Linked DNA regions of Homo sapiens: region 1 is reported to be linked to region 2. The links are microRNA targets in miRTarBase. Many come from high-throughput screens and were not tested one by one. Region 2 holds a microRNA gene; the other region holds the end of a gene's coding sequence.
The links. Region 2 holds the annotated microRNA hsa-miR-6720-5p (UUCCAGCCCUGGUAGGCGCCGCG, at 1,628-1,650, shown strand). A microRNA usually pairs through its seed, bases 2 to 8, with sites in the 3' UTR of a target mRNA and lowers its output. Matches are read on the target gene's strand: a 7mer-m8 pairs with bases 2 to 8, a 7mer-A1 pairs with bases 2 to 7 and ends in A, and an 8mer does both.

Region 1 (5,000 bases), not on the chromosome of region 2:
GACCTCTGGGGCACTGAGAAAATGAGGCTGGTTATCTTCTCATAGCAGGAGCCAGGGCCAGTCACCCTCCATTTCCAGGCTGGAAAAGTACAGAAGCACCTTGCAATAGCTCTTCATGACGTCAAGGGACCCCACACCCTGGGAGAAGGGTTAGGAGTGTGCAGCTTCCTGCTTTGGTGGCAGGCCTTTTCCTAATATGGGTGTCAGAGGAGTTGAGGCAGCAAATATGCTTGTGTCTAATACATGCCTTGATCTTTTAGTTTGGAAGGGAAAACAAAGTCCAAGATGCTTTTAAGTTGGATTGATGCTGAAACAGCTAAAATTTCATCTTATCCACCATCAAAAAGCAAAACAAAATTAAACAAAATGACACTAGCCATTCACCATTACAACCATCACTATAAGACACACCATCACTGAGGAAATGACAACTATTTCCATAGAGAGTGCTGGATGGGAGGGCAGGACACAGACGGAAGTCAGCTTCAGCGTATACCCACTTACTCACAAGGGCTGACCATGATGGCCCTGCTCTGCATGAGGACTCACAGGACAGCCAGGGCACTGATGCCTGCAGGACTGCATGGCCGACAAGATGATGCACATTTTAATATTCAAAATGTAAACAAAGTATCCACAAATAGTCCAAAAAAGCCAAAGAATGGCTTTACTTAAAAATTTTTAAATGCCCTTAAAAGTGACTTTTTGCATAATGCTTTCTTAAAAAAAGAACTCTCACAAAAACATTTTTACCAAACATGCCTAGATCACTTCAGAACTGAAATCCTCAGATGAAACAGGTGAACACTTCTGTGACCTGCTACATCTCAGAAGCTTCTCATAGGAAGCTTTGAGTTTACCCAACAGCATCTGTCTGGGGCCTGTGAGCAGAGTACCTCAGAGCCTGAGGCACTGAGATCTTCAGGCTGTCCTTGGAGCTCTGGGTAGTTTGCAAAATGAGAAAGAGGAACTATCAGTAGGGATAAAGACACAGAACAAGGAAATCCATAACCCTGTCTCAAGCCTCCTCAGAACCAGGAAAATACTAAAGATCCTGAAGAGACTAAGATGATAGGAATGATCCCAAACATTTAGAATCTGAAAGGCAACTAAAATGAGGAGAGATGAATATTACGGTACTATAGTACTACATGTCTACTACAGTATCCATTAGTCCTGGGTGTCTCCAAAAATCAAGAAAGGGTTGGGGTTTCCCTTTCTACTGACCAGGTTCAGCTCAAGTTCTGTATGCTCCTGGGGCTTTTACCCCATACACCAAAACATCAACTGTTTTTATATATGTACATATGTGTACACATGCACATACACTCCTCCAAAATAAGTGAGAGTCTATGGTGGTTTAAAAAGAGAGAGAGAGAGAGGAGAGAGAGAGAGGCAGGCAGGCACTGGGCAAGAGTCAAAGTTTTTCCTATTCATCTTTGCCAGTCTATCAAATCTGCTGCTTCAGGTCAGGTCATGAACAAAAGAAAAGGGAAAGATGCCACTGGAGATTATAAAAGTCTGAAGAGAAGACAGTCTGGAAAGTCCTTGACAGTTCACTGCGCACCTCCCCTGGACACTGCTCAGCTATGTAAATAACCCAGGAACACCCAATTCTGGGAGTCTGAAAAGGCTGGCACAAACTCCTTGGCATGGTTGAATGACAGATATTCTGTAGAAGATGTTTATTTAGGCAGGTAAATTAAATGATAAAAAAAGTAATTATAAAAAGGCAGAAAGACTTTCCTCTGCTCTTGAAAATTTTTTTTCCCCACAGTATTAGTGGGTTTTGTCCCATCTTTGTTGTTATTTAATGCAGTGAGTGAACATTAAACACAGTGGAGGGGAGAAGAGGGAACAGTCCAAAACTTTGGTCCTGCTTGTACCTCTTAGTGTGTGGGATGTCATCATCGTAAGGGGTTACCACAAGTGGATGCCACTCTCTTAACTTCCAGGCAAACCCTCTCCCCACCCTGCCATAAGTTCCTGCCCTTCCCCATCATATTGGTGGTGGAACTGCTTCAAGAAGGCAGGGTATTCTACATGGAAGAGCTCTGGAAATCCATAACCCTGTCTCAAGCCTCCTCACATTGGTTCATACCACCTAACAAAACACTTTACAACACACAAATATCCAGGAATCACAAAACTGAGTGGATGAGATACTTGAACATTCAAGGAGACTACTGAGCAACAGCACAGGGTACACATAATCACTGCACCATAGAGACGCTTTTAGCAAGTGGTTTCTGTCCAACCTGCTTCCTGGCAGGGATGTCAGACCCAGCCTTGGCTTCCACACAACTTCACAGCTCCTCTTAAGACCCAGTGGCCCCAGTCTACCTTTTCTGCATCTTTTGGGTCGCCCTGCCATCTGCCCCCACCAAACTCTGGCCTCTGACATCATGCTGACAGTCTGTGCATTTGTATTTTCCTCAGTGCTGTGATAAGCCAAAAACCTGTCTCCAGTCTATACTCAGTCAATCCTCAGTAACGTGGACATCAACGAAAGCAAATCTGCAAGCCTCTTCAGTTTCAATGAGATGCAGAGGTGTTTCATGCTAGACTAAATCTGTTTTCTGTAAGAAGCTACAAGAGGCTTGTTTATGACAGGCGCTGCTGCGTTAAGGATCTCCACAACAGTAGCAAAACGACAGCATCCTAAATGGAGTCACTGTGGGCACTTGCCCCTGGCTGAGGCCTCCCCTGTGGCCTTCAGCCTCTACTAGGAGCTTCCACTCTGGGCAACTCACATATACTTCCTGGCTGTGGTTGAGATACTGGCAAACAATGTTCTGGGATTTCAGTCTCACAGAGAAATCAGCTTTCAGTCACGCTGTGACCTAATGGGAGCCTTTAGGGGTGTCTCTGAGGAAAAAGTTACTAATGCATAATTTGGCAGGAGCTGGTGATTGGAAGTCTCCATTTAAACAACTACAGCCACCATCAACATATTGTACAGATTCCTATCAACACCCAACACTTTCATTTCTGGTGTCTGTGTTTTCCAGTTGCAACTCTACTCCTTCTTAAAAAGAATAAATCAAAATTACCCTACAACATGAACAAGACACTAAGACAGTGACAATATTATGTACATAAATACTGTGTACAAACTTTAGAGAAATGACAAACCTTCCAGGAAAAGGAAAAAAAAGTGTTAACAGTGATAATACCAAAAATAAAACGTTGCATTCAATGGATGTTAAACATATGTAACAATTCAAATATAATCTATGAAATTTAAAAAAATAGGCAGCATGGGGACAACAGCATGGGGAAGGAAAATAAACTGGAAGAAAATATGGCCATTAAACTCAGAAGGCCCAAAGAATTATTCAAGTAATGGAAGGGTTAAAACCCTACATACATATTCATTTTACAAGAACACACTGACTTTCGATTGCTGCTTTTCAAACATGTCACTGTTGTTTTCAGTTGGGAGGACACTGCAGAGCACATTTTTCTGGCAGGGAGAGCCAAGATGCCCATCTGTGTGGATCCCACCAACCCAGCAGTTTCTGGGCAGCAGCCTCTCCACCCCCAACTTTATGTCTTCCTCCTCTTATCATGCTTTCCTCTACAGAAGACCACTTGGATTTCATTTGGGGTCCTGTTTTAATTTCAAAAATAATTTTCTTGGGAAAAAAACTATATGATAAATTTGCAGAGCCGGCCATTATCATGTCTTACTGTAACGATACACTCTGGAACACCGGAAGACCCTCTTTTAAAGCAAAGCGGAACCTGCCTCCTTCAGGAACTCTAAAGGGCTGCGGCTGGATGAAGGCTGAGAGCCCTCTGACTTCTGGCTGACCTTTAGCCCATTCGATGCCTCAGGTCTGGAAACCAAACCATCATCACAAAGGCAGGGGAACATCTCCAATCCCCAGCTTTATCTCCACCCCTCCGAATCTGCTTCCTTCCCTCAATTAAGAAACCATGCCTTTTCTCAGAGGGCAAAATGAGAAGCAGGTGGCAGCTGACTGAAAAACAGCAATTTGCCTTTGATAAAGGTGTTCTCTGAAAATGACTTTTTTGAGGTTTGATTTTTTTAAATAAAAAATGATAAACGGTCTTGCCATCCAGATCAATCTCTCTTTCCCCTTACATATACACACACATACACACTGAAAAACACCCAAACCCTGCATGCACCAGAAACAGTAAAATGACCAAAATATTATAAAATTAACCAATAAAGTGCATGTTCCTTACATATTACACCTGCCCCTTTTACAAACATTTCTTCTAGAAAGTCACATGTGTAGGCTCAGAATCACATGGTATTATAGAAGGGGTTGGTTGTCCGTTTTTTGTCATTTGCCTTTTTCAGTCTCCTAAGGGGGTGAGTTCTGCCGTGTTGCTGACGGGGTGCCACGGCCAGCCCTGGAGCTGGGCATGCACACTGCAGTCCCTGGGTCTGTAGCACGGGAAGGCCTCCTTCAGAACTAGTCAATTCAAGTCCTGCCCTGGGGAGCAAATACTGCTGACTAGAACCAAATTCTTTGGCATACTGCACAAGGGGCCTCTCCACTGGCTTGCTCTGCACAATACACTCTGTTGTTGTGAGTTGTTCTACAAAAGACTTGGTGGGCTCTGGGTTGTGGGGGGCACCTGGGTTTTCTAGGGACTCTTGGTCCTCCATCGCGTGCATGCCTGAGTCTGTTCTGAGGAAAGGCTGAAGCAGTTTGAGATGAGGGGATTCACAGGAGGCAGGCTCCCTCTCTGGTAAGCAGTCTTTACAGAGGTCCAAGTAACCTAATTTGGCGAGAGAAGCTGAGCGCCTCATTTGGGATGGTTTGGTGAGCCCTGCCTGGAAAACCACTCGAGACTCGATTTCTTTAGCACGCTCCTTCACCACACCGGGGCTGTGGCTGAGACTCTTTATGTTTTCACTACTAGAGCTATGTGGGAGTCGACAGGCTACAGGCAATGGGTCCATTTTCTCCTGTAACTCCCCAGTGTTGTCACCAAGTTTGCTAATTAAACTTAGGTCT
Region 2 (5,177 bases):
GGGTTAATGTAAGGGTTTATCTCTGTTCTTCACATTAACCTGGTCAAATATTCAAATTCCCTCTTCCATCCCTACCGTCCCCTCCCACCTTTCACCGCCTTCAGCAAGTCAATAATTTTTCATAATCTGCAACCAGAACAATGTAAACCAGCCACACTACAAGTGGCATCCACAGGGCAGGCGCATTTCTCAGGGGAGTCCTAGCAGGGTCCTTCAGGTCCTGCCACCCAGGACCTGTATCATCAATGTGGGTCCATTGTTGGGCGGGGGGGGAGGCAGGGAAGGGGAGGAGTCTCCAACAGTTTGGTGACCCCCTCCACTGGCAAATGTCCCTTTAGTGAAAGATCCTGGGATCCAGCTCTGTCCCTCCCACCCCCTCCTCTTAACACTTGCCCAGCTGCAAACATCTCGCTGCAGACACCCCAACATACAGAACATATCTGATTCTGACATTTACTTCGGGACAGAAGTACAGCAAAATGAACGCAAGGAAAAAAAGGGACAAAAGGAACTAGACACAGCTTCCTGACCAAGTTCCCCAAAGGCCAGATGCCTTCTCTCCAAGCTAAGTGAGACTCTGAACGGGAGACCTGCAGTCTCCTGCACAGGGATCCCCAAAGAGCCCAGGAAGGCAGGGGACTTTACACCACGCTCACAGCAGCCAGACAATTCTGAAGCTTCGGCTGCTGGCCAGGGATACTGGGAGGACAGTAAGACCCTGATCCCTGCTCCCACGAATAAGATGCCGGCTTTCCCCAGCATCTGCTTTTCCCAGTGCCCTCAGACCTCCTAGCTTCGGGGTCCCTGTTTGTGGGAGTGGCAGTGGCCGCCAGCCCTGGAGGCCTAGAAGCGGTGCGCCCAGCTGGCTGGGCTGGAGCGTGCTGCGTTACCTGAGAGGTCCTCGCGAGCGTTCTGGTGCAAGTAGCTCTGCTCCAGCGAGTAGGAGGACATGCTGGAGTGCAGGCCTGCCGAGGCGGCGGGGTTGCTGCTGGGCGTCAGGGCAGGCGGCTGCTTGAGGTAAGGCGAGGCGCCAGGCGAGCTCCAGTGCGCCGCAGGGCTCGTGTAGGGCGAGTGGCATTCGATGGCGCTCGCCATGGCCGGGGACGAGGGTACCGGGCTGCTGCTGCTGTCCGGCCCGTAGTCGCCGCCGCCGCCGCCCCCGGCCGCACCGACGCCCCCGGGTCCCGCGGGCACCGGGCAGCTGGCCATGTAGGTGGAACCCGGGTTGGGCGACATGTGCGGGACGTGGTGGTGGTGGTGGTGGTGAGGGTGCGCGTGGCTGGGGGCGCCCGCGCCGGCGTCGTAGCCCGCGGGCATCATGTCGAGGCCGCCGTAGCCGCCCTGGCTGTGGCAGCCGAGCGGCGCCGACGGGGGCGCCTGGAAGTCGAAGCCCTGGGGCAGCAGCGACGCCCCGAAGCCCAAGCCGCTCACCACGCGGTGGTACATGGGCTTGAGCGCCTGGCACTTCCGCCTGAAGCCGCGCGGCCGGCGGCGGAACGAGCCCTCCTCGAACATGAACTCGCTGGCCGGGTCGATGGTCCAGTAGTGGCCCTTGCCGGGCCGCCCGAGGCCCTTAGGCAGCTTGATGAAGCACTCGTTGAGCGAGAGATTGTGGCGCACCGAGTTCTTCCAGCCCTGGTAGGCGCCGCGGAAGAAGGGGAAGCGCGCCTGCAGGAACTGGTAGATCTCGCTGAGCGTCAGGCGCTTGCTGGGCGAGCTCTGGATGGCCATGACGATGAGCGCGATGTACGAGTAGGGCGGCTTCTCGGGCCGCCGCAGCCCCGAGCTCGCCTTCTTGGCGCCCCCGCTCCCGGCGCCCGCGCCGCCGCCGCCCGCGCTCTTGCAGGCAGCCGAGGGGGCGCTGGCCGAATTGGAGGAGGACGAGGACGAGGCGCAGGAGGCGGAGGACGACGACGAGGAGGAGGAGGTGGTCTCCGGGGCGGCGGCGGCGGCGGCGGCGGCGGCGGGCGGCGGGCTCATCAGGGCGGCCTGGAGCGCGCCGGGGACCGGGCTGCACGCGCGGCGGAGCGGGGCCGGCGGCGGCCCGCCCTCGGTGGTCATCTGGGACCCGGGAGCGAGGCCGGGCCGCGAGGGCGGGCCCCGGGCGGGAAGCGGAGGCGCCGGAGCGGGGTCGGCCCAGAAGCCCTGCGAGCGCCCTAGCCCGCCGCCCGGGCTGCAGCCGTGGCCACTCCGGGCCAGCGCTTCGGCGTCGCCTCCCTCAGCTCCTCTGGGGCTTCTGGCGGCGGCGGCGGCGGCGGGCGGGAGGCAACGCCCGGCGCATCCCTCCCCGAGCCGCGGGCCCTGCCTTGCGCAACGGCCTCCCAGGCCGCGGGGCCGAGCGGCCGGCGCCGGGCGACTGCGCCCGCGAGTGGGACCGCGGCCTGGACCCCGGGGACGAGCCCGACGTCTCCCTTCAGGAGCGCTCCTCGCTCTGTCTCTCGGACTTCCTCCCTCCCTCGCCCTCCCCGGCCGCCCTCCTCGCTCCCTCCCTCCCTCCCTCCCCCCCCACCCCGCCCTGCCCCCTCCTCGCTCCGCGCCGCCGCGCTCACTCCTCCCCCTCCCGACCTGGCGGCCGCCTCCCTCTCTTATCTCGCTCCCCGCTCTCCAGGGTCTCCTCGCTCTTCATTCCTCTCGCGGCCTCCTCCCCTTTCCCTCACTCACCCTCTTTCCAATTGAGGGATCACAGACTCACTCCGGTTCTGCCAGGGGGACGACCCCCACCCCTCGCAAAACTCGACCACCTCTGACTTCATGAAATATTCTTTCTGTTTGCCCCCCGCAGCAAGCCCCGCGTCCCATCCCAGGACCCAGCCCCGCCCCTCCGCGCCCCCTTCCTCCTCCTGGCCCGCCGGGCCGAGTGGTGCTGCTGCGGGTGCGGCTGCTCGGAGCCTCCCTGGCCGCCCTCCCCAGGGCCGATACTGACTCCATCTGTCAACTTCGTTTAGACTTTGCCGCCCTCAGCCACACGCCGGGGTGCCAGACGCCCAAAGGTAACGTGCCAATCCTCTCTCTTTCTGGCAGGGCCTGCAGGCTCCCCGACAATTGTTAGGGCGACTGGGGGCCGCCGCAGGGTTGCGGGCCGCTGGCGATCGTGGACGTTTTCGGAACTTTGAGCAGAGGGATTTACACTGAGAAACCTAGGCCAAGTTTCAAAGACTCTGGAAACCTGGATCTCATGGGACTTAGGGTTGCATTTGCTTCCACTTCTTCCCCCCACCCCCGCACCCCAGTTAGTGTTCTGTAAGAAAAAAGTGCAAAAGAAAAAGGAAGGAAGGAAGAAAAGAAAGAAAGAGAAAGAAAAAGAAAGACCCTGAGATAAGCGAGATGGCTATATTTATAGTCAGTCCTGAAGGGGTGTGCAGCTGTCACTAGGTTTACATCCTCCGTCTTAACATTGCCCACCCAAAACTGTGCCAGGTCTCAGCTAACTCCTGTCCGAGAACACTTCTCCCCAGTTGTGGCTAATTCCTCCCTAAGTAAGAGTCAGGCTCTGAGAGAGATGTGCCCTCGGGAGCAATCACTTCCAATGAGACCCGACAGTTAGTTATTGGATTACACGTGCAGGGAAATGTAGTCCGACCAGGGATAGGAGCTGGGAGAGGGAGGAGGAGAGCAGGAGGCCGGAGCTGGCGGGGCCTCCCAAGGGCTGAAGGGGGAGGCCCAGAAAGAAGGTGCTGCAGACCAGCGGACCAAACAGGAGGTAGAGCTGGGCACCCCGCTGCGTCTAGGCTGAAAGGACCGAGGTGCACGGGTGTGCCTGCTGGGGAGCCTGGGGAGTTGCAGGAGGCAGGAGAAAGGGAGGTTGTGCAGTAATCAGGAGGAAGACACCAGGCAAAGAGCCTTCACAGCCGCACAGCCTAGGCAGGCCCCCTGGGGCGGCAGGAGCCCTGTGTGCCCCTGGAGTGCCGGGGGACTGCTCCTGGCTGAGTGTGCTGGTGGGGCTGTAGATGCAGAGAGGGCGGGTGGGGAGGGGAGGGGTATGTGGGAGGGGGGTGGGCCGGGGCTGGCCCCAGACAGTGACCTGAGGTTGAGTGGAAGCAGGCTTTTTCCATCAAACCCTGCCTGGATACCACACACAGAGACCGAGTGTCAGTTTACTGCCCTGAGCCGGCTCCTTCTCCCTAAGCTCCACAGTAATTAGACAAAGAAAACCTAAATTAGCTGAACAGGCGTCGACAGCTTCCTCCAGAGCACCCCTGGTACCTACATGGGAATGTGTCCGAAAATGGCTTGATTGTAGCCGAGAGTCAGCTAAGAAAACACCGCCAAACCGAACTCAGTTTACCACTCATTTCCAATAGAAAAAAGAAACAAGTCGCTCTTTTCCGGGTGGGATGTTTTGATTGGGTTGGGGTAGGGCTTCGCAGTTGTTTCCACTTTCTAAGAATTTCTGACTGACTGCTGAGCGTTTTTGGGGGGTGCGTCCCCATATATTTCATGGTATTTTTTTCTCTTGCCCTCATTTGTCATTTTGTGTGGAATAACTTAAAAATACATAACTAAATATGAAAGTAAATATAATGTGTTCACTAAACCAATGCTCTAAGTGCCTAAAATATAATTATTTTCATAAAATAGAAGCTGGAGTGGGGAGGACAGATAGGATCTTAAAGGAGCTCTACTGACATAGAGTTCAGTGTGTGTGTGTGTGTGTGTGTGTGTGTGTGTGTGCTTTAAATGGAAAGAGCCCAGGGGAGAAGCTTGTGGGGGAAAAGGACAATTATCTCATTTGTAGGTGGGGGCGGTGGGCAACGGGCTTTGGAAACATTCAGTACTCATTGTCACTTAGCCATGGACTCTCTCTGATTCTCTGTGCCTGAAAATTATATGTATTTGGATCTCAGGGAATACAGATCCAACTTGTTAAGAGCAGGCCTTAAAAGGTTTTAGGACCCGGAGACTGAAGAATAAAAGGCGCTAACCTTAAAATCCAGGCAGGACCAGTGATAACCTTCTATACTAGTAGCTCCCAGTTTTGGGGTTATGGGGTCATCCTCTGAGAATACGATGGAAGCTATGGAGCCAGTTTCCAGAAAAATACTTCCAACTTGCCTGAGATTTTAGGAAGTCCACAGGTACTCATTAAAACAAACAAGGAAACAAGCAAAAAACCCCAGATTCTTTTAGCTTCTACCAATTCAGCTGGTTAAATTATGAGGGATTTTTTTAAAAGGCTC

Region 1: miRTarBase lists SSH2 as a target of hsa-miR-6720-5p. The part of its 3' UTR that is shown has no 7-base or 8-base seed match.

Annotation. Positions count from the first base shown.
Region 1 is chr17:29,626,562-29,631,561 of GRCh38, forward strand. It overlaps SSH2 (slingshot protein phosphatase 2), which reads right to left. Exons shown (of 16, transcript NM_001282129.2): 16 at 1-5,000. The coding sequence ends at 4,280. Among named protein-coding and RNA genes, the nearest start is that of CORO6, 6.2 kb to the left of the region's middle.
Region 2 is chr6:1,386,832-1,392,008 of GRCh38, reverse strand. It overlaps MIR6720 (microRNA 6720), which reads left to right and starts at 1,598; the gene lies at 1,598-1,695. FOXF2 (forkhead box F2) reads right to left here and starts at 2,433. Exons shown (of 2, transcript NM_001452.2): 1 at 891-2,433. The coding sequence starts at 2,061. FOXF2-DT (FOXF2 divergent transcript) reads left to right here and starts at 2,548. Exons shown (of 3, transcript NR_187218.1): 1 at 2,548-2,990. RefSeq lists an enhancer at 386-1,251.